3 linked regions of the Homo sapiens genome follow. The protein of the gene in region 3 interacts with the protein of the main gene of each other region in a pairwise test. Each region holds a gene or a part of one and is shown on either strand. Other genes may lie near its edges.

Region 1 (7,791 bases), on a different chromosome or scaffold from region 3:
GGTTGCAGTGAGCCGAGATCGCGCCACTGCATTCCAGCCTGGGCGATGACAGAGCCAGACTCCATCTCAAAAAGAAAACATCAAAAAAAGATACTCTGATTACACAACCTAAGGAAAAATGTAAACACCCTTTTCTAAGCTGCAAGGAAATTTTTCAGGCAACCCATTTTGTTTTTACATGTAAAAGTCTTACAAGTTGAATGGTAATTGTCTGATATAACTTTAAAACTGTATATGCTATAATCCATAACCACATTCCAGAAGCCTAAACTTTTAATATAAATCATTTCTATTAATATGCATGCATCATATCTCATTTATGTTCTCTGGGCTGTATTTGCAATCTGTTCCTTTTAAGGTACAACTGAAATCTTCTAGGAGCAAGCAAGGCCATGCTCAGTAAACGTATCATTGGACTAATACAGAACATTTGCACACTAGCCCAAATTAACCTCACGGGAGGCAAGGAACTAGGAAAAAATATTTTATTTATTTATTTTTTTTTTTTGGAAACAGGGTCTCACTCTGTTGCCCAAGCTGGAGGGCAGTGGCCCGATCATGACTCATTGCAGCCTCTAAGTCCCAGGCTCAGGTGATCCTCCCACCTCAGCCTACTGAGTAGCTGGGACTACAGGTGTGCACCACCATGCCCCACTAATTTTTGTATTTTTAGTAGGAATGAGGTTTCGCCATATTGCCCAGGCTGGTCTGGAACTCCTGGGCTCAAGAGAGCCACCAGCCTTGGCCTCCCAAAGTCCTGGGATTACAGGCATGAGTCACCATGCCTGGCCCTAGAAAAAAATATTTTAAATTGTATAAAATTTAACAAGCTATCAAAATGAGGCAACTTAGAAAGAATTCCTAGTAATTCCAAAAGAAAAAAAAACTAAAAAGAAAAAGCTATGTTGGGAAATGTGGTATCTGCATTGTCTCAAAATGTAAGCTGGTAATTCTCTTCAACAGTCCAAAATATTTTAAAACTGGGGTTTTTTTCAGAATGCTCATTTGGTTAGAAATTCTCATTTTGATTGGCTGAGTTGATCAAGATTTTAACTTTTATTATACACACACTCAGAAGCATGAGCTTATTTTATATATCCAATAACATCTCTTACAACTCTACAACTACAGAACTTAGTAGTGTTCTCAAAAAAAAAGGTTCTCTGTAAGCTCAAAACAGTTTCTACAATTGAAAGTTTATTACACACTCATTTGTGGGGAAAAAGCTTAGATGTTGGTGTCCAATGTTATATTTCTCAATGCATTTACTTAGCCAATGGGCAAAAGAAGAAAAAAAATCACAGGACACACACACTTATCTAAAAGAAGGATTAACATGAGAAGTCCTAACTAACCTGAATATTATGTTAATAAACATTAACTGTAAAACAATTTATTGTGAAACGATGAGTCATAGGCAGCCAAGACTACTATAAATAAAAAAGGCATTTTATTTAGTTTAGATTTAGCCTGAGTTCAAAAGAAAAAACTAAAATAAAAATGAAATATGCAACTTTCTCTAAGGCAGACAATTCAAGCTAAAAGAACATTGTTAGAAAGCCAAAGGCTGAGGAAAACAATATCTTTTAAAAACCGCCCATCAGATAACTTTAAATGGCAGGTGCAATCTTCTTGTGAAATAGAAAGCATAGTACTTTCTTCCCCTACATTATAAAATGCTACTATCGAGTATGACTAACAGAGAATAAAGGTACCATGTGACCCAAGAAGGGTGTGTATGAGAAGTAGGGGCAGAAAGACGGGGCTGAGAAAAGCTGCAAAAAGCTTTCAATTTCCTAACTCTGACTCTTAGAGACCAGAGCTTACCTGAATACATTCTGCTGGGGATTGGAAATCATGCAGAAAGGTCTGTGATTCCAAAACGTTAATACATTTATTATAAAGTAATCTTGGGTAAAGATATGTTGCCTTAAGCAAAGAGTTAACTGTTCATAATACCCATTTGAAAAATCTCTCATTTTGTTTGGGAGAAATAATTGATAAGTCCATCAAAGTAGTTTAGTAAGCACAAATGGAGAACTATGTAGAAAGAGGAACTATTATGAAATGTATGACCGAGTGTGTTTTGTGTAAGACTAATGGAGGTTTTCAAAGGTTTTTCGTTTCTGGCTATATACAAAAATAAAAATAAGGGCGTTTTCATTCATTTAAACCAGCAGTAAAATACTGCCTGGTTTATGCCGCTTATTTTCACCTTACAGTCTTAATACACATTCCAAGACTGATGCGATATTCATTATTTCTTTCGGATAACTGGAAGAGGAGGGGGAGTAAAGCTGTACATTAAACAGTCCACTTGGTAATTGAGAAAATTCAGCAGTGAAATATATCATGAGGCACCAAAGAGATTTGCCGGGGAGGGCAGACAAAAGAGAAAACAGCCACAGAACATTAAGCCCCGGAAGAGATGAGAATCGGTCCCATATACGTAACTCGACGACTGGACAAAACCCCGCTTGACGCTGCCGGTGGGTGAAACGAGGTGATTTGAGATTCAGGGCGTTCTCGGCTCTTTCCCTCTCTCGAATCGATCATCTCCAACAGGAAGTCAGAGCAAGGCAGGGTTCGGAGTCAGAGAAAGCTCCCGGGGGAGTCTGTCTACCACGACAACAAACTCCTAAGGCTCCTTCCGGAGCTCCACAGCCCTCTGGGCGGCCTCTCTAGCGCTGTACTTCACGTCCCCGCTCCCCAAAAAAGTCGTGCACCCCGACTTCAGCTATCCGCGTTCAAGAGAGTGCGGCAGCAGTTGGGTCGGCCCCCTCAGCGGTCCCGGGCCGTAAGGGACCTGGCGGAGCGGCTCAGGGAGGCTGAGACGGCGGCTACACGACTTTCATTACCTTCTCGCGCTGATCCCAGCTGTACTGCTTTGGCCGCTCCTCCTCGTTCTCGGGCCGCGACTCCTTGTCAGCCTTCCGTCTCTTGGAGAAGAAGCAGCCCATGGTCCCAGCCCGCGGAGCTCGTTGGCCAGCTCACTAGCTCAGGCACTTCCTAGAGTGTGGCGTGAACCCTGGGAACCCCGGCCTCGCAGCTCTCCGGACAACGCCCCGCGGAACCGCCCAACGGTCCGCAGCCTTAGTTTGCCCGCCAGGCCCAGCACCCCTTCCCCTTTTTCGTCGCCCTGACGACCCAGCGCAGCCAATGAACGCTCAGCGCCTGTTGAGCCAATCAAAGCCTCTCGAGCAATCCTGCGCGGCCTATGAAGAGAGGCCGACATACCCACATACCAATCCACGCCTGGCTCCTGCGACAGCCCCTGGCGGCGGGGCGGGCCGGCTCTGGCGCAAGCACGGACAACCCCGCCCACAGCTGTGGCACGGACCGCCCTCGGCCCCGCCCCTCCTGGAACTTGGTGGGTTCTCTAGCTGGTGGGAGGCCAGGCTCGGTATCCGGGTTTTTTTTGCCCCTGATTCATAAATTTGCAAGTTCAAGGCGCGGGAGAGATCTCTAGTTGAACATTAGATTTATCTTATGATGAAAGTTGTGAGGGACAGAAATTCCCGCTGACACAAGAAGACCCTGAAATTTGTATTTCTAAATCCTCTTCTCCCCTCATCACCCTTCCTACCGCCCTCTCATCGCCTGGCCAGGGTCACCCCCTCAAGAATTGTACCCCATAACCTCCCAATCCTCTTCTGTGCTCTTTCTTTCTTTCTTTCTTTCTTTCTTTCTTTCTTTCTTTCTTTCTTTCTTTCTTTCTTTCTTTTTCTTTCACAGGGTCTCGCTATGTCACTCAGGCTGCAGTGGCACAATCATAACTCACTGCAACCTTGCAACTTTGCAACCTTGACTTCCTGGGCTCAAGCGATCCTCCTGCCTCAGCCTCCTTCCTGAGTAGCTGGAACTACAAGCAAGCACCACCATGCCCACCTATTTTTTTTTTTTTTTACTTTTGTAGAAATGGGGTCTTGCTATGTCGCCCAGGCTGGTCTTGAACTCCTGGGCCCAAGCGATCATCCTGCCTCAGCCTCTCAAGGTGCTGGGATTACAGGCAGGACCCACCGCACCCCAGGCTGCTTCTGTGTTTTCTTAAGACTTTCACATATGGCTCTAAAATTGCACAAGTACTTAGTAAAATAGTTAATTGTGTATTGTTTCCCTATTTGAACTGTGACTTTCTTGAGATCAAAAAGGTATATCTTTTTTTTTTTTTTTTTTTTTTGATGGAGTTTTTGCTCTTGTCGCCCAGGCTGGAGTGCAGCAGTGCCATCTCGGCTCACTGCAACCTCCGCCTCCCGGGTTCAAGTGATTATCCTGCCTCAGCCTCCAGAGTAGCTGGGACTGCAGGCGCCTGCCACTACGCCCGGCTAATTTTTGTATTTTTAGTAGAGACGGGGTTTCACCATGTTGGGCAGGCTGGTCTCGATCTCCTGACCTCAGGTGATCTGCCCGCCTCGGCCTCCCAAAGTGCTGGGATGACAGGCATGAGCCACCGCGCCTGGCCTAAAAGGTATGTCATAAAGGGCATGCAGGGCCGGGCGCGGTGGCTCACGGCTGTCATCCCAGCACTTTGGGAGGCCGAGGCGGTAGGATCATGAGGTCAGGAGATCGAGACCATCCTGCTCAACACAGTGAAACCCCGTCTGGTGAAACCCCGTCTCTACTAAAAATACAAAAATTAGCCGGGCGTAGTGGCGTGTGCCTGTAGTCCCAGCTACTCGGGAGGCTGAGGCAGGAGAATTGCTTGAACCCAGGAGGTGGAGGTTGCAGTGAGCCAAGATGGCGCCGCTGCACTCCAGCCTGGGCGACAGAGGGAGACTCTGTCTAAAAAAAAAAAAAAAAAAAAAAACCAGAGCCGGGGGGGGCGGGCACGGTGGCTCACGCCTGTAATCCCAGCACTTTGGGAAGCCAAGGCGGGCGGATCACAAGGTCAGGAGTTCGAGACCAGCCTGGCCAATATGGTGAAACCTCATCTCTACTAAAAATACAAAAATTAACCGGGCATGGTGGCGGGCGCCTGTAGTCCCACCTACTCGGGAGGCTGAGGCAGGAGAATAGCTTGAACCCAGAAGGCGGAGGTTGCAGTGAGCCGAGATGGCGCCACTCCACTCCAGCCTGGGCGACAGAGCAAGACTCCGTCTCAAAAAAAAAAAAAAAAAAAGGCAGTGGGGAGGAAAGCTGAGGGGAGGGATGTACCTTTGAATCTCCTACACCTGGCCCAAGTCCATACTAGGTGCTCAATACAACGTTTGTCAAATGAATGAATGCATGCATGGGTGCTAGTGAAGGAAGCATTTATAAACTTCCCCCATCCCTTCCCAAAGAAAGTGACCAAACTGTGGGGGTGGGAGGCATGTGGATTTATGGTAAAGGGGTTCTCCTCATGGAGTTTATAGCCTCGTTGAGGACATAAGCATTGCATATGAACGATCAGATCTGTTCTAAGCAAATGGCATAGGGTTCGTCAGAATATATTTAAAGATATATACACTAAATATAAACATTTGTTATACTTGGGTCGAATTTTACTGCAATACACATGCATTGCCTATGTAATAGAAAAGAAAGGTAAGTCAGTTTCTCTGAGAAACAGTATTTTGACATCTCAGTAGGATATCAAATGCTGATCACTTCAGGTTCAAATTTGGTTATCTTTTAAATTTCCCATACTTATTCACATCTAGTTTGTATCCTAAATGAGCCTCTGACTTTTTTTTTTTTTTTTTTTTTTGAGACAGAGTCTCGCTTTATCACCCAGGCTGGAGTGCAATGACATGATCTCAGCTCACTGCAACCTCCACCTCCCAGGTTCAAGCAATTCTCCTGCCTCAGCCTCCCGAGTAGCTGGGGCTACAGGCGCACAAAACCACACCTGGCTAATTTTTGTATTTTTAGTAGAGACGGGGTTTCACCATGTTGGCCAGGCTGGTCTCGATCTCCTGACCTCAGGTGATCCACCCACCTCGGCCTCCCAAAATGTTGGGATTACAGGCGTGAGCTACAGTGCCCGGCCGACTTAATTTGAACATAAAGAATGTTCCCCTTTTTACTTCCCGTCCTTTATTGCACAATCGGGAAGAAAAGTACATGTGCTTAAGTATTAGAAATTACTGCAAATTTAAGTTCCAGATCTTAGGCAATAGAGTCTTTACCCAGTGCACACTTTTTCTCCTTCAGAGTGAGATGAAAGTTTTATGTGAAGATGTTTTTGGATAAGACCCTCATTCGATATTTTATAATCTATTATTATATTTATAATCTATGGTCTATGATTATAAAACATCTGTGACCAGATATAAATATATAACTATGACCACTACTTAGTGTAGCAGAGGAGGCAGAGATCCAGAGAGGTGAAGGGATGAATCTGTGGTCACGATGAGAGTGGCTGAGCAGGGACTGGAAAAATCCACATCCTGTGTTTCCCAGTGCCTCCTCCTGCCTTAAGTTTGTTCCTCTCTAATTCATCTGAAATAAGTATCTGCCTCGGCCTTCTGATGCCTATGGGAGCTCTGTCCCACAGTGATGCTATTCCTCTTAATGAACAAACAATATAACAAAACTAATTCTAGAGAAACAACCTCTGAAACTCTCACTGTTTTGAAGTATTCATTAATGAGAAAAGCTCAAATCTACAATAAAACCTATATCCAAGAGTGATCTTTTCAGGGACCCTTAAAAGTGAAGATAAAGTCCCTTTTCTGTTCATTCCCATCCTACCATCACTCTTGACCAAAAACAAAATTACAAAAAGAAAATTAAATCAAATGTTAAGAACTGGGGACTAGAAAGCTAATGAACAGAGCTAATACTAGTGCTGTCTCATCCTTTTTCTTTCTCTCTTATTCTTTCTTTCTTTTCTGCCCCATCTCTTTTTCACCTGTCCCCATGAATTCTCATCACTACTTATTTTTGCAAACCAGCTCTCTACTTACTCATCAGCATTTACATGGTTGACAACAGCTATCCCACCCTGATTCCTCATGGCCTTTCTGTCCAAGGGCATGCTACAGTCTCAGACTCTCAAGGGAGATAATCATATACATTGCTGGCCAGTCAATAACAGATTGGCTCTAGGTTGGTATGCACCCCTGGTCCCATTGCTGCAGCTGCAGGGGCGAATTCCAAACATGGGTGTTACAGATATGGGTGGGAAGCAGGTCCTGAAAAGGGAACGCTAACTCTGAAGAGTTCAGGCAGAAGTTGGTTGCTTGTTCTGCTTGTGCTCCTCCTGCTATTTATATTCTAGTGATTTCTTTTCTATAGAAGGCTGCCCTTCCTGTTCAGCTTGATGTATCTATTCATCTATATTAAAATGTTGAGTTGTGGGTTTACACCTGGCCACAAGCTCCAGAGATGGCTCTGGGTCCCCTGAGTCTTGACCACAGAAGTGATATAGTTACTTCTCAGAAGACAGTCCTGGCCGGGCACGGTGGCTCACACCTGTAATCCCAGCACTTTGGGAGGCCGAGGCAGGTGGATCACTTGAGGTCAGGAGTTTGAGACCAGCTTGGTCAACATGGTGAAAATACTAAACATACTAAAAATGCAAAAATTAGCCAGGCGTGGTGGTGCGCCCCTGTAATCCCGGCTACTCAGAAGGCTGAGGTGGGAGAATTGCTTGAACCCGGGAGGCAGAGGCTGTAGTGAGCCAAGATCGCACCACTGCACTCCAGCCTGGGCAACAGAGTGAGATCCCATCTCAAAAACAACAACAACAAAAAGACAGTCCTGAAGCAGTGTATCTCTACAGCATGAATAAGTCAATTACCCCAGCAACGATGGCTGGAAAATTCCCTATGTTTGAGTTGACCTGACACATCCTTGCTCACT
Region 2 (7,774 bases), on a different chromosome or scaffold from region 3:
AGAGAGAAATACCTACGCATGCCAGGAGTATGGTAGACACTGGACAGACATGAAGACCTTTTTCTAATGGGTCAGGATAGATTTAGGTTGGACCACAGAGAGGTTAGAGTGTTCTGGGGTTTTCCAAGGATAGGACGGTTGCCCCTAATTTTCTCTGGACTTGGCTGTTTCTTCTTGGAGACTCAAAGAAGCAGGGCACAGAGTATTGGATTAATGGGCTCTGGGGAACCCTGTCATCATGTTCTCAATTTCTTGTGCCCTCGAGGATGTGCTGAGCTGGAGAGGGCAAGTACTGGGTTTACTAATAAGATCATGAACAAATGATGCATCCCTGAGCTTTACCCCTGAAGCACCAGAGCAGCCTAGCATTTCACTGGGAGAAAACCGGGTTTTGGCTCGATAAGACTACAGTGGACAGCACCCATGTACAGAATAGCATCATGTGTCTTATTTCCTCATGGCAGCCCAGTGAGATGAGAACGATCTCCATTTTGGAAATAACACAGGTTGTCTGTGTGCCTGGGGACGTTCAGGTAGGGGCTGCGAAGCATTCTCTTGTGGACTCAGGGTTTTTGTTGTTGTTGTTGTTTTTGAGACGGTGTCTCACTCAGCTGCCCAGGCTGGAGTGCAGTGGCGCAATCTCGGCTCACTGCAACCACCGTCTCTCAGGTTCAAGTGATTCTCCCGTCTCAGTCTCCTGAGTAGCTGGGATTACAGGCACCTGCCATCATGCCCGGCTAATTTCTGTATTTTAGTAGAGAGGGGGTTTCACCATGTTGGCCAGGCTGGTCTTGAACTCCTGACCTCAGGTGATCCACCTGCCTTGGCCTCCCAAAGTGCTGGGATTACAGGCATGGGCCTTCGCACCTGGCCTGACTCAGGGGTTTTTAGGAAGAAAGGACCAAGGCCTAGGGGTGCCCTGAGGTGACCAGTGTGGATGGAGGTGGATTTGTTCCCTTTCTTCTTCTGTGCCCCATATCTTACCACTTTAGAAAAGCAAAACTTTCTGTGACTTGCTTTTCTTTTCTTTTCTTTTTTTTTTTTGAGATGGAGTTTCGCTCTTGTTGCCCAGGCTGAAGTGCCATGGTGTGATCTCGGCTCACCGCAACCTCTGCCTTCCGGGTTCAAGCGATTCTCCTGCCTCAGCCTCCCTCGTAGCTGGGATTACAGGCACCCGCCACCATGCCCGGCTAATTTTGGTATTAGTAGAGACGGGGTTTCACCGTGTTGACCAGGCTGATCTCAAACTCCTGACCTCAGGTGATCCACCGACCTCGGTATCCCAAAATTCTGGAATTACAGGCGTGAGCCACCACACCTGGCCTTGCTTTTCATTTTCTTACCTGCAGTTCGCACAGTCCCCTGGGGGCTCAGTGGCAAGTTCAGCGTCGGGTGCCAGAGCGCCTCATTCTTGGTGACCCTGGGAGTCTTCATCACCAAGGAGATGCTAGGTCCCCCTCCAGAGACCTGCATGTTGGCCATGAACCAAGCTGCTGTCTTAACAGTGGTCTCTGTCATCTGGAGAAAGTAGCGGGAGATCTCACAGGTCACCTCCTTCCCACTGCAGTCAGCATGGAGCAAGGCCTCGGCCTGGGGAATCTGGACCAGGTCCACTGGGGAGAAGCAGGGCACACACAGAGGGCAAATTAGCGTGAGAACACCAGGGCCAACGGGAGGCAGTATGTGTGGCTGTAATCGGGACCTGGGCTGTCCTGGTGGAGGGAGCCCGGGAGGACCAAGGACACAGGTGGAAGGCTTTTACCTGAGGCCTCAAAGATAATAGGTGGGTCATCTTGGGCCAGTGTGCCCCCTTGGAAATCGGTGAAGTCCTCCAGGGAGCCATCGTCCAGCACTGGCACCTGCTTCAGCACAAGGGAGGCCCTTGCCCTGTCCTCACTGCTGGCGAGAGCTCCACGGTGCGCACCGTCCTTCGCCAGGAAGCAGTCTAGGACCACGTCCACTGCCCGCCACTGCCCCTCTGCTGGGTGGGGCTCTGCAGACAAAGGCTGGGGTGAGCACCGCCTTCCCCAGAAAGCTACTCCACACTTGCTTCCTGCCCCCGCCCTCAAGCTGTGGAGTCATCAAAGGGTAAAAGTTGCCATCCAAGATCCTAGCTGTTTCTGTGTCCCTCTATTCTCCCGTCATCCCCAAACCAGCTTTCTGGAGAGCACCTGCTAGTCCAGGCAAATACTTCTTGGTGAGAGTTAAAGTCCTGGATTTGCCTTGCTCAGAGGAGTTTATGCTTGCATTTCCAACTGTTGAATAAAAGACTATCTTTTCAGTCAAAGGAATTCTCAGAAAACAAGCAAGTGCCACCGCAGAGAGAGGAGACTGGACAGTTACTGTTGCTGGGGCACTGACAGCCTGCACTGCTTTCTCCCATTTCGGGTAGCCTTCCCCTCCCCCGCCTTCAAGGTCACCTTCCAAGTGATTTCCTCACCTGGGGAGTCCTTTCCTCTTCTGAAGTGTCAGCTCCCAGGCCAGTGCCCTCTCTGTAGGACAGTGGCTCCTGACCACAGCCACAGAGGCAGCCCCTCTTTAGCATTTTCCCTGTGGAGTCCCCACCCTCCCTCCACACACACTATTGGTTCCTTCCTTTGCCAGCCGCTGAGCCTTTCCCCTGTTGGGCTTAGAAGGCGATGGGGTCATCCCCGGCCCCTTTGCTCTTCTGGAATCTCGGGGAGGGTGGCACCCTGGGGCTTCAGTAGCTCTTCTCCCAGCCAGCTCTCCCCGACTCCCAGACTCACTGGTTTCTGCTGCTCCAGATAGAGCCAGGCAGAGCAGCAGGCACCAGCCCTCCTGTGTGCCCATGGAGGCTGCTCTCGAGTTCCCTCCTTGCCCACCGCCCTTCTCCACAGTCCTACGCTGCTTGCGAGGCCCGGCGGAAGAAGGGGGCTCTCCAAGCACACCTGGCAGCCTGCAGCCTTTAGGTTTCTTCCCTGTTCCCTCTGCTGCCGACTTTTCTTTCACTTTCACTTAGAGCAAGATGGCAGCCCGCGTCCCTGTGTGAAGCCGTCTGCAGCAGCTGCCAGAGCCCTGCTTGCTGTTTCCTTTCTCACCACCCACCTCACCCGGAAATCCCCTGGTGATTTCAAGACCTGACCTCTGCACCCTTTTGCTCCCCACCTGTCCCAAAAAAGTGGAGCTATAACTGTGGGAAAAGGGGATCTGAAGTCAGACACAGGATCCACAGTAGCCTGGGGACCTTTCTCACCCCCGCCCTTAAGCAGGCCCCAACATAACCGGCTGAGAAACCTCCTCTGCCAGATCCTGACCTGAGCCAGGAGGCGGCCAGGAAACTGGATTTTGGGACTGGGATTTCAGAGAGGAAGCTGGAGAGCTGCAGGGTGGTCATCTGTCACTTTATTTTGCCCGTCTTGTAGCATGTGGGTCTTTCGCAGCAGGAAGTGTGTTTTACAACCAGAGCCCCCGCCCTCCTGCAGCGCAGGCGCAGCTGGCTGGGCTCCTGCTTCCCACTCTCCACCTCATCCATATTTGTCCTCGTCCCTGCCAGTCTCGAAAAGGCACTCTGTCACGTGTACACAGGAAAGGGCCCTGACAAGAGGATGGGACTGCAGTTGTGGCTGCCAGGTCTCACTCTCCCTTGGATGGTCGGCGGGGTGGGGGTGGAGGCCAGGGCTGTAGTGCAGCTCCCGCAGGTGCTGGCTCAGGGGGAGCAGGCAGGCTCCGGTTTTCGGTAATCCTCCTGGATGGGGATGGTGCTGCCCTCCTCCTCCCTGGGGCAGCTGTAATGACAAGGCTCTGCAGGCTCCACAGGACTTTCTCCTTTGTCTGCAGAAGGAGATCCGATGAGTCTTGGCCAGCAGTGGGGGCAGGGGGAGACGGGAGAAGGAGATGGGTAGAGGCGGGTGCGCTTGGGGGAGGGGTGTCAGGAGCACGCCAGCTAAGGGGAGAGAAGGGGTAGGACCAAGGCTGGTGAAGTGGAGCTGGTGGGTTTCAGTGAGATTCCAGGCGTGGGCAGTGGGGTTGAGCCAGTGGGGTGTGGTGCAGGGGCAGGACCGGAGGCCTGTGTTCTGTCTCTTACTTGATCTATATTTCCTTCGTTGATGGAGGAACAGGGCCCCGGCCAGGGTGAAAACAAGGAACATTCCAGAGAAGATCACAAGGATGCGAATAAAATCGGAGCTGCACAGGGATCTTTGGGCTGTAATAGGAGGGGACACACAGGGGTTAGGGGAGGGTCTAGCCCTTGGCTCCCTCAGCCCAGCCCTCCTGTCACCTTGCCTCTCCCCTTTCCCCCACCTTATTCTATCCCACCCGCCACCGTTGGCCAACTCCTCTCCTAAACAGTGGACTCTGCTTTTTCCCCTCCTCTTATCCCTAATCCTAGGAGCTTTCTGTCTGGCTTCCCTCCTGGCCCCTCGTGTATGCATTCTCTCTAGCGGTGGGGATTAAGGAGAAAACTCACGTGGCCAGTGGGTAGAGAGAGTCCGGGCAGGCAGCTGCCTGAAGTCAGCCAGAGTCTGCATGTGCCCAGCTGTCCTGGCCTCCAGCATCTCTGGAAAAACAGAGACAGAATGAGTAGCAGCAGGGGACCCCATAGGGCACATCTGAAGGCCTGAGAGGTGCTGGATGGGATGGGAAGGCAGAAACAGGCTGACCTTATCTAGGGGTAGGAGTGGGGAGTACTGGTTGGGGTATCACCGCTACCCCACGTGATGGCACAGAGAGTTGCCTGGAACTTACCACTGACATAAGGTAAGTGGGTGGGCTGAGGGTGTGGGCTCAGGGCCTGAGACGACCGAGCGGTCAGCGAAGGGTTTGGAAGAGGATCACACTCGGTGCACTCCTTGTCCCTGCACTGCCAGCCATTGCGACAGGCACACTCAGCATTGGCAGTGATGGTGCAGTTGCGAACGAGAAGACCTGGGGGAAGAGAGGCCCAGGGAGCATAGGACACTCAGACCTGTGGAGACCTTCAAGGTCCACTTGCTTCATCCCCCAACCCCCATCCCAGGCCCACCTCTAGGGACGTGCTTCCCTTTCCATTCCCACCCCTGCAAAGGCCTGCCCTTTGCTCACGGTCCCCCAATGCCTTTGCCATTATTATTGTTATTAAAGAAGAAAGTTGGACCTTTCAGAAGGAAGATTCATGGGTTCAGACATAGAAACCATGAAAAGTAGAAAGAGCTTATATGACTTTCTCTTGTACTCCCTGATACATTTTTTATTTTTTATTTATTTTTTTGAGATGGAGTCTCGCTCTTGTTGCCGAGGCTGGAGTGCAATGGCGTGACCTTGGCTCGTTGCAACCTCTGCCTCCCGGGTTCAAGCAATTCTCCTGCCTCAGCCTCCCAAGTAGCTGGGATTACAGGTGTGTGCCACCACACCCGGCTAATTTTTTGTATTTTTAGTAGAGACGGGGTTTTACTGTATTGGCCAGGCTGGTATTAAACTCCTGACCTCAGGTGATGCACCAGCCTCAGCCTCCCAAAGTGTTGGGATTACAGGCGTGAGCCACTGTGCTCGGCCCCAATACTTTAATAACTTTTAATTAAAGTATAATATACGTACAGAGAGGCACGCATGATTGTAAAGCTTAAGAATTTGTACAAATTTGGCTCACAGGCATAACCAGCAGCAGATCAACAAATATAAAATAGCCGGGTGAGGCAGGGAATTGCTTGAACCCGGGAGGTGGAAGTTGCAGTGAGCCGAGATCACGCCACTGCACTCCAGCCTGGGCAACAGAGTGAAACTCCGTCTCAAAAAAAAAAAAAAAAGAAAAGAAAGAAAGAAAATAGCCAGGTGCAGTGGCTTACGCCTGTAATCCCAGCACTTTGGGAGGTTGAGGTGGGTGGATTGCTTGAGCTCAGGAGTTTGAGACCAGCCTGGCCAACATGGTGAAACCCCGTCTCTACAAAAAATACAAAAATTAGCTGGGTGTGGTGGTGCACACCTGTAGGCCCAAGCTACTGGGGAGGCTGAGGTGGGAGGATCGCTTGAGCCCGGGAGGTGGAGGTTACAGTGAGCTGAGATCATGATACTGCGCTCCAGCCTGGGTGACAGAGTGAGATCCTGTCTCAAACACCACCAACAAAAAACAAAACAAAGTATATTAGGGATTCCCAGGGGCTGGGGCTGGGGCTGGGGTTGGTTGGGGGGAAGAAATGGGGAGTCATTGCTAAGGGGTACAAGTTTCTCTGGGGTAACGAAAATGTTATAGAATTAGATAGTGTTGATGGCTGCACAACCTGTGGATACACTAAAATAAATAAATAATAAATAGTTACTTGATTACAGTTACTTAGCCTTTATTTTGTTTGTTTGTTTTTTGACAGAGTCTTGCTTTGTCGCCCAGGTTGGAGTGCAGTGGCACGATCTCGGCTCAGTGCAACCTCCGCCTCCTGAGTTCAAGTGATTCTCCTGCCTCAGCCTCCCTAGTAGCTGGGATTACAGGTGTGTGCCACCACACCTGGCTAATTTTTTGTATTTTTAGTAGAGACGGGGTTTCACCGTGTTAGCCAGGATGGTCTCAATCTCCTGACCTCGTGATCCGCCCGCCTTGGCCTCCCAAAGTGCTGGGATTACAGGCGTGAGAATTTGCCTTTAAAATATACATTTTGCTCAAGTGTAGAGGTCCGATGCTGGGTGGCTGGGTGTTAATTATCCTGGGGGCGGGTGTGGTAGGGCACTAGCTGGGCTGGGCTGGGCTCGCTGGCGGCTGGTTTGAGAGGAGGGTGATTCAGAGGAAGGCAGTGACACCCAGATGTGGGACAGGCTGCAAGAAAGCCTGGTGGGCCTTAGGGCAGACACTTGTGGGGACCCGGGGAGCCCTAGGTGCCCTGACAGGTGGAAGAGGGGTGCAGAAAGGGAGGATGTCAAAGAGAGAATGTCAAAGGTCATAACCAAACCTAACAATTTTCTTCTACTTATGCCTTTTGTCAGGACAAGGAGAGGGACAAATTCCTTCTTGGCATCCTTATGGCCCTGTGACCTGCTAATGAATGCTGACTCTGAGTTGCTACTAGAATTTGGTTTCCTTGTGGCTTCCCAGGAATTGTGAGCCATGTTGGATAAGGACCTGCAAGGGAAGAATGAGGAAGCCTGGGACAGTGCAGGAGGGGAGAGCACTGGTGGTAGAGAGGAGTGATGACAAGGGTCTCCGCCAAAAGGGAAATGGAGGGGTTAAAGAAGCTGCTGGGGAGGGTTAAAAACAATGTGTTCTCACTCGTAGGTGGGAATTGAACAATGAGAACACTTGGACACAGGAAGGGGAACATCACACACTGGGGCCTGTCGTGGGGTGTGGGGAGGGAGGAGGGATAGCATTAGGAGATATACCTAATGTAAATGATGAGTTAATGGGTGCAGCACACCAACATGGCACATGTATACCTATGTAACAAACCTGCACATTGTGTACATGTACCCTAGAACTTAAAGTATAATTAAAAAACAAAACAAAACAAAACAAAAACAATGAGGTGCTATTGTTTTAGTGGTGAGTATCCGGAGACCTGGGAGTTCTATTTACCAGGTATAACCTGGGCTCAAAATTCCAGGCTGACTTCAGGCATGTCCTCATCTCATAGATGCCAGCACTAAGGCCCAGAGAGGGCCGAGCTCATTCAGCCCACCCATCTTCTCACCCCTGACTGCATTTCCCGGGGGTCCTTCTGCAGCCAGGTGCTGCTGTGGTACTTTGGGATCTATTGGCTGAGCTCCCAGAGAAGGGTCATGGATTGGGCTAGTTTGGAACAAGTGAAGGGACTGAAGATGGGCTCAGTATGGGGCGAAGACCTTCAGGAAG
Region 3 (7,018 bases):
TGGCTCATGCCTGTAATCCCAGCACTTTAGGAGGCCGAGGCAGGTGCATCACCTGAGGTCAGGAGTTCGAGACCAGCCTGGCCAACATGGTGAAATGCCGTCTCTACTAAAAATACAAAAATTAGCTGGGCATGGTGCCACACACCTGTAATCCCAGCTACTTGGTAGGCTGAGGCAGGAGAATCACTTGAACCTGGGAGGCAGAGGTTGCAGTGAGCCGAGATTGTGCCACTACACTTCAGCCTGGGCAACAGAGCGAGGCTCTATCTTAAAACAAAAAAAGGAAAGACACTGGCTTCAAATATACAATCTGGTAGAGGAATTAATATACGATTAGAGAACAAGTTTACCACCCTATACCACAAAACACTCTCATGGGTGTCAATTCTGAATATAAGGTTTGAAATCTCTTAAGCTTTTAAAAATACACATAACATTTAAGGCTTACAAAAAGGTTTACTAACATATTTTATAAAAATGATGCCATGTATCCTCCAGGTTAAGAAATGGTATCACTACTGTGAAGGTGAGTGGTTGCGGGGTAAAAAAAAAGAAAGAATGGCATCACATACCAGCTCCTGTAATATCATAATCCTATCAAGTACGGATTTGCAAAAATTTTCACTTTAGATATGAGGTAATTAATATGTTTTCTCCACACCCTGTCCTCACTTATCAGGTAAAAAGAATTTTACTCCTTTAAGATTAAAAAACAAGCATGCCTTCATTAAAAGAGATTAAAAGAAAAAAATCATCACGTCTTCTTGATTTATAAGTGGCCCCTAAGTCTTTTATTCTACTGCATTTACAAACTGTTCTTCTTGAAGTTTCAGTTTAAAGTCCTCTCTGATTCCTTCCAGTAACTCTGGTTTAAAAATAACATCCAGTGCCGTCATTGCCAGAGCTTTGGCCGTCCGCAGAGTGTAGAACTGAGCTTCCTGTGACCCTAAAAGGTAGAGAAAATAAAATACCTCCTTACTTATTTAAGCTGTATTTAATTTCACAGGTTAGCTACCCGTATCTCAACTGGCTCTCCAACTGCCCACCACAGTGCAGTATTTACTGAGGTGATGTTATGTAGTGAAATAGTAGGTTAAACAGAAAGGCAGCTACTACCAGAAGAAGAGTGTGTGTGCCAAAACAGTCACATCCAACAACACTTACCAGCAGCTTCAGTGTACTGTTCAGTATGATTCAAGGCATTAGATCCAATGTGAAAATATGGATGAATTCCAGGAACCACAAAACTAACATTTCCAAAATCCGTAGATCCTTGGAACACACAAAGTTAAGAAAAGTCTATTTAAGTATATGTGGTTAAGTATTCTGGAGTTATGAAGTCACAGTCCCTGTTAGAAGAGACGCAGAGAAGTGAGCTTCTTGGAGAGTTGTCCGTATGCTCATGCTTTCATGGGCTCACCTTCCACTGAGTCTGCCACCCACTCCCCTGTATCAGTCACATCTCTCATGAAGGTCACTGCAAACCTGCCCTCACCTTGTCTCACGGCTTTTACTGGCCCTCTTGGCCAGCACTCCACACTGCCACCTACTCCCTTTCTTCTCTTCTGTGACACAGCACTTGCATGGCTTCCCTTCTGCCTCTCTGATGGCCCCTTCTTCTGTCTCTCTTGGGGATAGAGCCCCCTCTACCTGACGATGAAATAATAGTTACGGGAGACTCCATTCCAGGCCCCTTTCTCTTCTTACTGCATATTCTTTCTCAAGATTTTGTCCGTATGTATTGCTTCAAATCACCACCAACTCAAATCTCTTCCCAGTCTCTGCTAAGTTCCATGCTCATACATCCAGTTGCCAGCCTGGTATCTTCTCTTGGATGTCTTCAAGGTAGATCAAACTTAACATATCTAAAGTCAAACTCATGATCTTTCTCTTCTACCTCCACTCCACCTATCAACAGTACCTGCCAAATATCTCAGAATCCTAACGCTCTTTGCATCACCATCACCAACACCTGTCCTCAGCCTATGCTATCATTATCTCTTGCCTGAACTAGAAGTTTCCTAATTGGTCTAGCAGCATCTACTCTATTTGCCGTCTTTTTTTTTTCAATCTTCATTCACCTTTCCAACCTGATCTCATACCATGTTCCCACTACTCTCGATGCCCTAGCCGCTCTAGACACTCACCATGCTCTCCCTGTCACAGGACCCTTGCACATGCTATCCCTGCATCATCTCTGTAACTCTTACTTAACCTTCAAATTCCATCTTAAGCATCATTTCCTCAGCAAAGCCTTACTTACTTCACCTTCCCATAAAGTGAAATTCCTCTAGCATAAGCTCTCACAGAGATGTATTACTCTCCTTTACAGTACTTTTTAATTTTCCATGTATTGGATGATTTGGTTCATGCTTATGTCAGAAACTAAATTATGAGGCTGTATGAGGCAAGAAATAGTATTTGAAATGACTGTGCATCTAGCTTCTCACAGGATTGACACACAGGCACTTGTTGAATAAATCACAGTAAAAACAAAGCCTTATGTTCACTCAATGGATATTTACTGAATGTTTATTACATGTCAAACACCATGCAGGCAAAGTGAGACTACACAGTGATTGGTAAGAGAATAAAGGAATATGTGACAAAGAGTAGCTAACATTTATCTGGAATACTACGTTCCAAACACAATCCTAAGTGCTTTGTATGTATTCTCATTAATATTTAGAACAGTTTCCATTTTAAACATGAAGAAACCAAGGCTTATGGGTATTAAATAACATGCCGATAGTCTCACAGCTGCTAGTTATGTGGTAAATGCAGACTGAGGCCAGACTTTGAGGCATAGTAGCCTCTATAGAAGTACTGCTTCAGAAAATATTCACTAAGCACTTAACTGTGCCAGAAACGGCTCCACACACTGAGGATGCACAGTAATGGGACATCAGTGAACAGGATGGAAAAAGCCTCTCCAGTGTTTAAAGAGTCTAAAGAGTCTGAGTGTAAAAACAAAACAAAACAAAAAAGGATGGACAAAAAAAAACCTGTTGCATATTTTAAGATCTTACTTGTGGAACTAGACCCTAGAGCCCACAAATCATACCAAAATCACAGCCACTTTATCCTACTGTTTTGTCCATTATATAAAACCCAAACCCGGGGTAGAGCAGGCCATGTGTCTTCCCTTCTTCAGCTAGACAGCAGAAACCTGCTAGGGTAAAAGAACAGAACCATGCTGAGCTGAGCTTTCTTGCTGTCCAGAACAAAAGAAAACATGAAACTCTGATGTCCCTGGACAACTCCTCTCAGTGGCAATTCTCTCTCAATCCCTCAGCCCTACCAGCTCAATGCTCACTGTGTGCTACTTCCTAGAGGGAAAGTCTCTGAACTCCCTGACCTCCTTCCTAAACATTACATCTACTTCTCAAGTATCTTCCCTTAAAAACTATTTTCTTTTCCGTATTTCCCTCAAGCTTGTATCCACTCTTTCTATTTTCCTTGAAAGCTAACTCTCTTGAAAAAGAATAGTCTTCATTTGCTACTTCCACTATCTCAGCAGTCAATGCCCTGGGTAGAGAAGTGAGACCCAGCATCTGGTACCACTGGTCTTATACTATTTTCTTCCAGACAATTCATGAATTTCTAATTACTAGAGTCCAGTGGACACTAGACCATATTCATCTTATTCAGTCTCTACAGCACTTGACATGATTTATGCCTCCTTCTCTTCTGTAAGTTTTCTTCTCCCTTGGCTTCCATGACTTCTCCTCTCTCCTGATTGTCTGGCTTTCTCTCTGACCACTTCGTTGACTGCCAATGTCTGATCTCTGGGAATCTTCTTCCTCTATGTATTTGGGCAACCTCATCGACATCTATGTCTTCTATATACCTTTCATATATGGACAACTCCTAAATCTCCAAACTAGACATCTTTTTGGGTTCTAGATTTAACAGGTACTGAACAGCTCCACTTAGAAATACTATAAGCACCTCAAGTTTAACATACTAATAATTTATAACAACCCCCTCTTACCCTAACCTGCTCTTTCTCTTGAACTCCTTATCTTAATGAATGACACCGACACCCCATTTTCACCACCAAGTCCTTTTGGGCCTACTTCAACAACATCTATTTTTAAAACAGATGATACATCTCTAACTTGCAAATGTATTAGTAATAATATGCTTTTAAAAGGAAAAAAAAACTAACATAACCCCAAATATGCTTATTTCAATTCTAGCTGTCTGTTGCTCCTCAGAAACTGAAAATGCCCCAGATAACTAAGTACTTAGTAACCTGCTTATTGTGATGACTGAGAATGAATTAAAATTCTATATCCCACCTTAGCAACTTACTTAAAAATTAAAACTAACGAAACTTAAACACTAGAAAATATTTAGAATACAGACAAAAATGTAGGTTGACTATTTCTAAAATCAAGTCTGCTCGTTTGACATTCTACACTCACTTAAGAGTCCATTAGTTTCTTTCCCCTAACCATAAAGTTTGTGAAAATATTAAAAACGTCAGTAGTACCTCCCGACCTCCCAAACCATTAAATACAACCAATTTAACCAAAGATGGTATTTCTCTTCCTCAAATAGCTCAATATATAAAAAAACACTTAATTACCTGAAGGGCCATTCAACATTGTATCTTCTGAAATGAACTCTATTCCTAGCTTTCTTCCATTTTCCATATAGGCTTTCCATAGGCTCTTATTGGGAAGAACATTGTAATAATCATGTGCTCCACCTTTAATTTCCACCTAATAAAAAATTGCAAAACAAATTTTGAAATAAAAAACTCAAATTCACTATCTAATTTTCAAACCAGTGATTGTTCTCTAATAGGAAGAGGTTTTAAGAGAAGATACTTTCCCTTCCAGATATAAACACTCTCAAATCTCTTACCTTAAAAAAGAAAAAAGATTTATTTTCTATAACGAGAGTTCCTAGGACTCTCTTTTATGCTATATATACACTAAACCCCACAATGTCACCAAGCTCTATACTAGCTACCAAGTGTCAACTTCAGTCACCTAGATAGGGTATGAGAAGGGCCCAGAAATTTTTATTTTATTTTTGAGATGGAGTCTCACTCTGTTGCCCAGGCTGGAGTGCAGTGGTGTGATCTCAGCTCACCACAACCTCCGCCTCCCAGGTTCAAATGATTCTCCTGCCTTAGCCTCCCAAGTAGCTGGGATTACAGGCGCCTGCCACCAAGCCCAGCTAATTGTTTTTGTATTTTAGTAGAGATGGGGTTTTGCCATGTTGGCCAGGCTGGCCTCAAACTCCTGACTTCATGTGATCTGCCCGTCTCGGCCTCCCAAAGTGCTGGGATTACAGGCATGAGCCACTGCACCCAGCCTAATTTTTATTTTAACCAGCACCTCAAAGTAATTCTGACATAGGTGACCCAAAAACCACACTCTGAGGAACACTGCTCTAGGATTCAGTCTCCAAAAAAAAGAAATTAAGCTTTACTAATATTCAATATGCAAACTGACACTGACATCACTGCCTGGTGTGAGAGGTAGAAAAGTACTCTGAGGGAAATGTAGAAGATTTGCAATGAGGAAGGGTTGACAACAGTCCTCATTTATTAATTTCAGTATATAAAGATACGGAAGCAGCTTTTATGTGCCCAGTTAAGTGGATTTACAGATTCAGTTTTGATTAAATAAAAATTGGCAATATTCCCTCAAACCAATATTAGCAAAAGCCAATCATAAAATGGCAGAGATGACATTTCTTTTATTCTTAGCAACATCTACGGTAGAAATTATGACAACCAAATCAGACCTTACAAGTCAGCCAAAATATAAGAAATTACTAAAAGATTATTTAAAATATAGATTTAGGCCAGGCAAGGTGGCTCACACCTGCAATCCCAGAACTTTGGGAGGCCAAAGCACGAGGATCACTTGAGCCCAGGAGTTTGAGACCAGCCTGGGCAACACAGGGAGAGCCTATCTCTACAAAAAACTTTAAAAATAAATAAATTAAATTAAATATAGATTCAAATCCAATAACAACAAACCTTACCATAAGGGAATACTGTATACCTTGAGATATTGCCTAATGATAATAGTTCACATCCATAAGTATTTCACAAATAAATATTTATAATTATAAATGAATAAGGGAATAAATATTTAGTTTTTACTGCCCTCAGCTATGGACATTTCACAGTTTTCATTCACTATAACCATCTTCTCTAGTGGCATATGAGAATACATCTTTGCTCCTACATCTGTCCATATGTTTATCGATTAACTACAACACAACACGAGCTTCTATATTCTTATCTTTGCTGACTATATTCCCTAAGAACTTTCAGTCTCTGTCTTTCCCATGCATATCTGAAAGTATGATCAACCTTCAAAGCTCAGTTCAGGTCTACAGTCTTCCACAAAACCTTCCTCCAAGGTTAACAGCCCCAGACCACTCTTTCCCACCTCTGATCCTCACGACACATTCCACACTACTCTCAGGACACGTAACATATGCTTTCTGAGAATTACTGCTACTGTGAGATACTGCTACTACGTGAATCAATCATACATCTCTAGACTAATAAGAACAGAAAAAAATAAGGCAATATAAATGAAGGCTGGGCTCTAAACCCTTCAGAAACATTATCTCATTTAATTCTCACAAGAATCCTAAGATAAATTGTTATTATCTCCATTTTTCAAGCAAGAAAATGGAGAGCCAAAGACACTAAACATTTCTAAAGGTTACAGAATTAGCTAGGCTGAGAGTTATGGGTCAAGATCTTGTCTCTCCAACTAGACTACAGGCTCCCTCTAGGGCAAGATTCTTATCTTGTATAATTCTAAAACTCACTCCACTTTACACAGTACATGATTTTAAATACTAACTTTATAGTTCAAATCAACAAAACCAGTCAGTGTGGTGGCTCACACCTGTAATTCCAGCACTTTGGGAGGCTGAGGTGGGTGGATCACAAGGTCAGGAGTTCGAGACCAGCCTGGCCAACATGATGAAACCTCGTCTCTACTAAAGATACAAAAAAATAGCTGGGTGTGGA

The links.
Region 1: the proteins of PM20D2 (region 3) and RP2 interact in binary tests that used the Homo sapiens proteins (3 or more experiments, as listed by UniProt).
Region 2: the proteins of PM20D2 (region 3) and TAPBPL interact in binary tests that used the Homo sapiens proteins (3 or more experiments, as listed by UniProt).

Annotation. Positions count from the first base shown.
Region 1 is NC_000023.11:46,832,270-46,840,060, reverse strand, and holds the start of RP2 (protein XRP2), read right to left. Parts: upstream 3,019-7,791; 5' UTR 2,961-3,018; coding exon 2,859-2,960; intron 1-2,858. UniProt on the Homo sapiens protein: Acts as a GTPase-activating protein (GAP) involved in trafficking between the Golgi and the ciliary membrane.
Region 2 is NC_000012.12:6,447,286-6,455,059, reverse strand, and holds the start of TAPBPL (tapasin-related protein isoform 1 precursor), read right to left. Parts: upstream 3,019-7,774; 5' UTR 2,812-3,018; coding exon 2,748-2,811; intron 2,510-2,747; exon of another isoform or gene 2,441-2,509; intron 1,994-2,440; coding exon 1,763-1,993; intron 1,614-1,762; coding exon 1,344-1,613; intron 1-1,343. Other genes in the region: CD27 antigen, read right to left, coding at 3,486-3,904, 4,046-4,165, 4,430-4,519, 4,708-4,887. UniProt on the Homo sapiens protein: Component of the antigen processing and presentation pathway, which binds to MHC class I coupled with beta2-microglobulin/B2M. Association between TAPBPR and MHC class I occurs in the absence of a functional peptide-loading complex (PLC).
Region 3 is NC_000006.12:89,156,037-89,163,054, reverse strand, and holds part of PM20D2 (xaa-Arg dipeptidase), read right to left. Parts: intron 4,731-7,018; coding exon 4,595-4,730; intron 1,651-4,594; coding exon of another isoform or gene 1,547-1,650; exon of another isoform or gene 1,285-1,546; intron 1,273-1,284; coding exon 1,165-1,272; intron 947-1,164; coding exon 792-946; 3' UTR 1-791. UniProt on the Homo sapiens protein: Catalyzes the peptide bond hydrolysis in dipeptides having basic amino acids lysine, ornithine or arginine at C-terminus. Postulated to function in a metabolite repair mechanism by eliminating alternate dipeptide by-products formed during carnosine synthesis.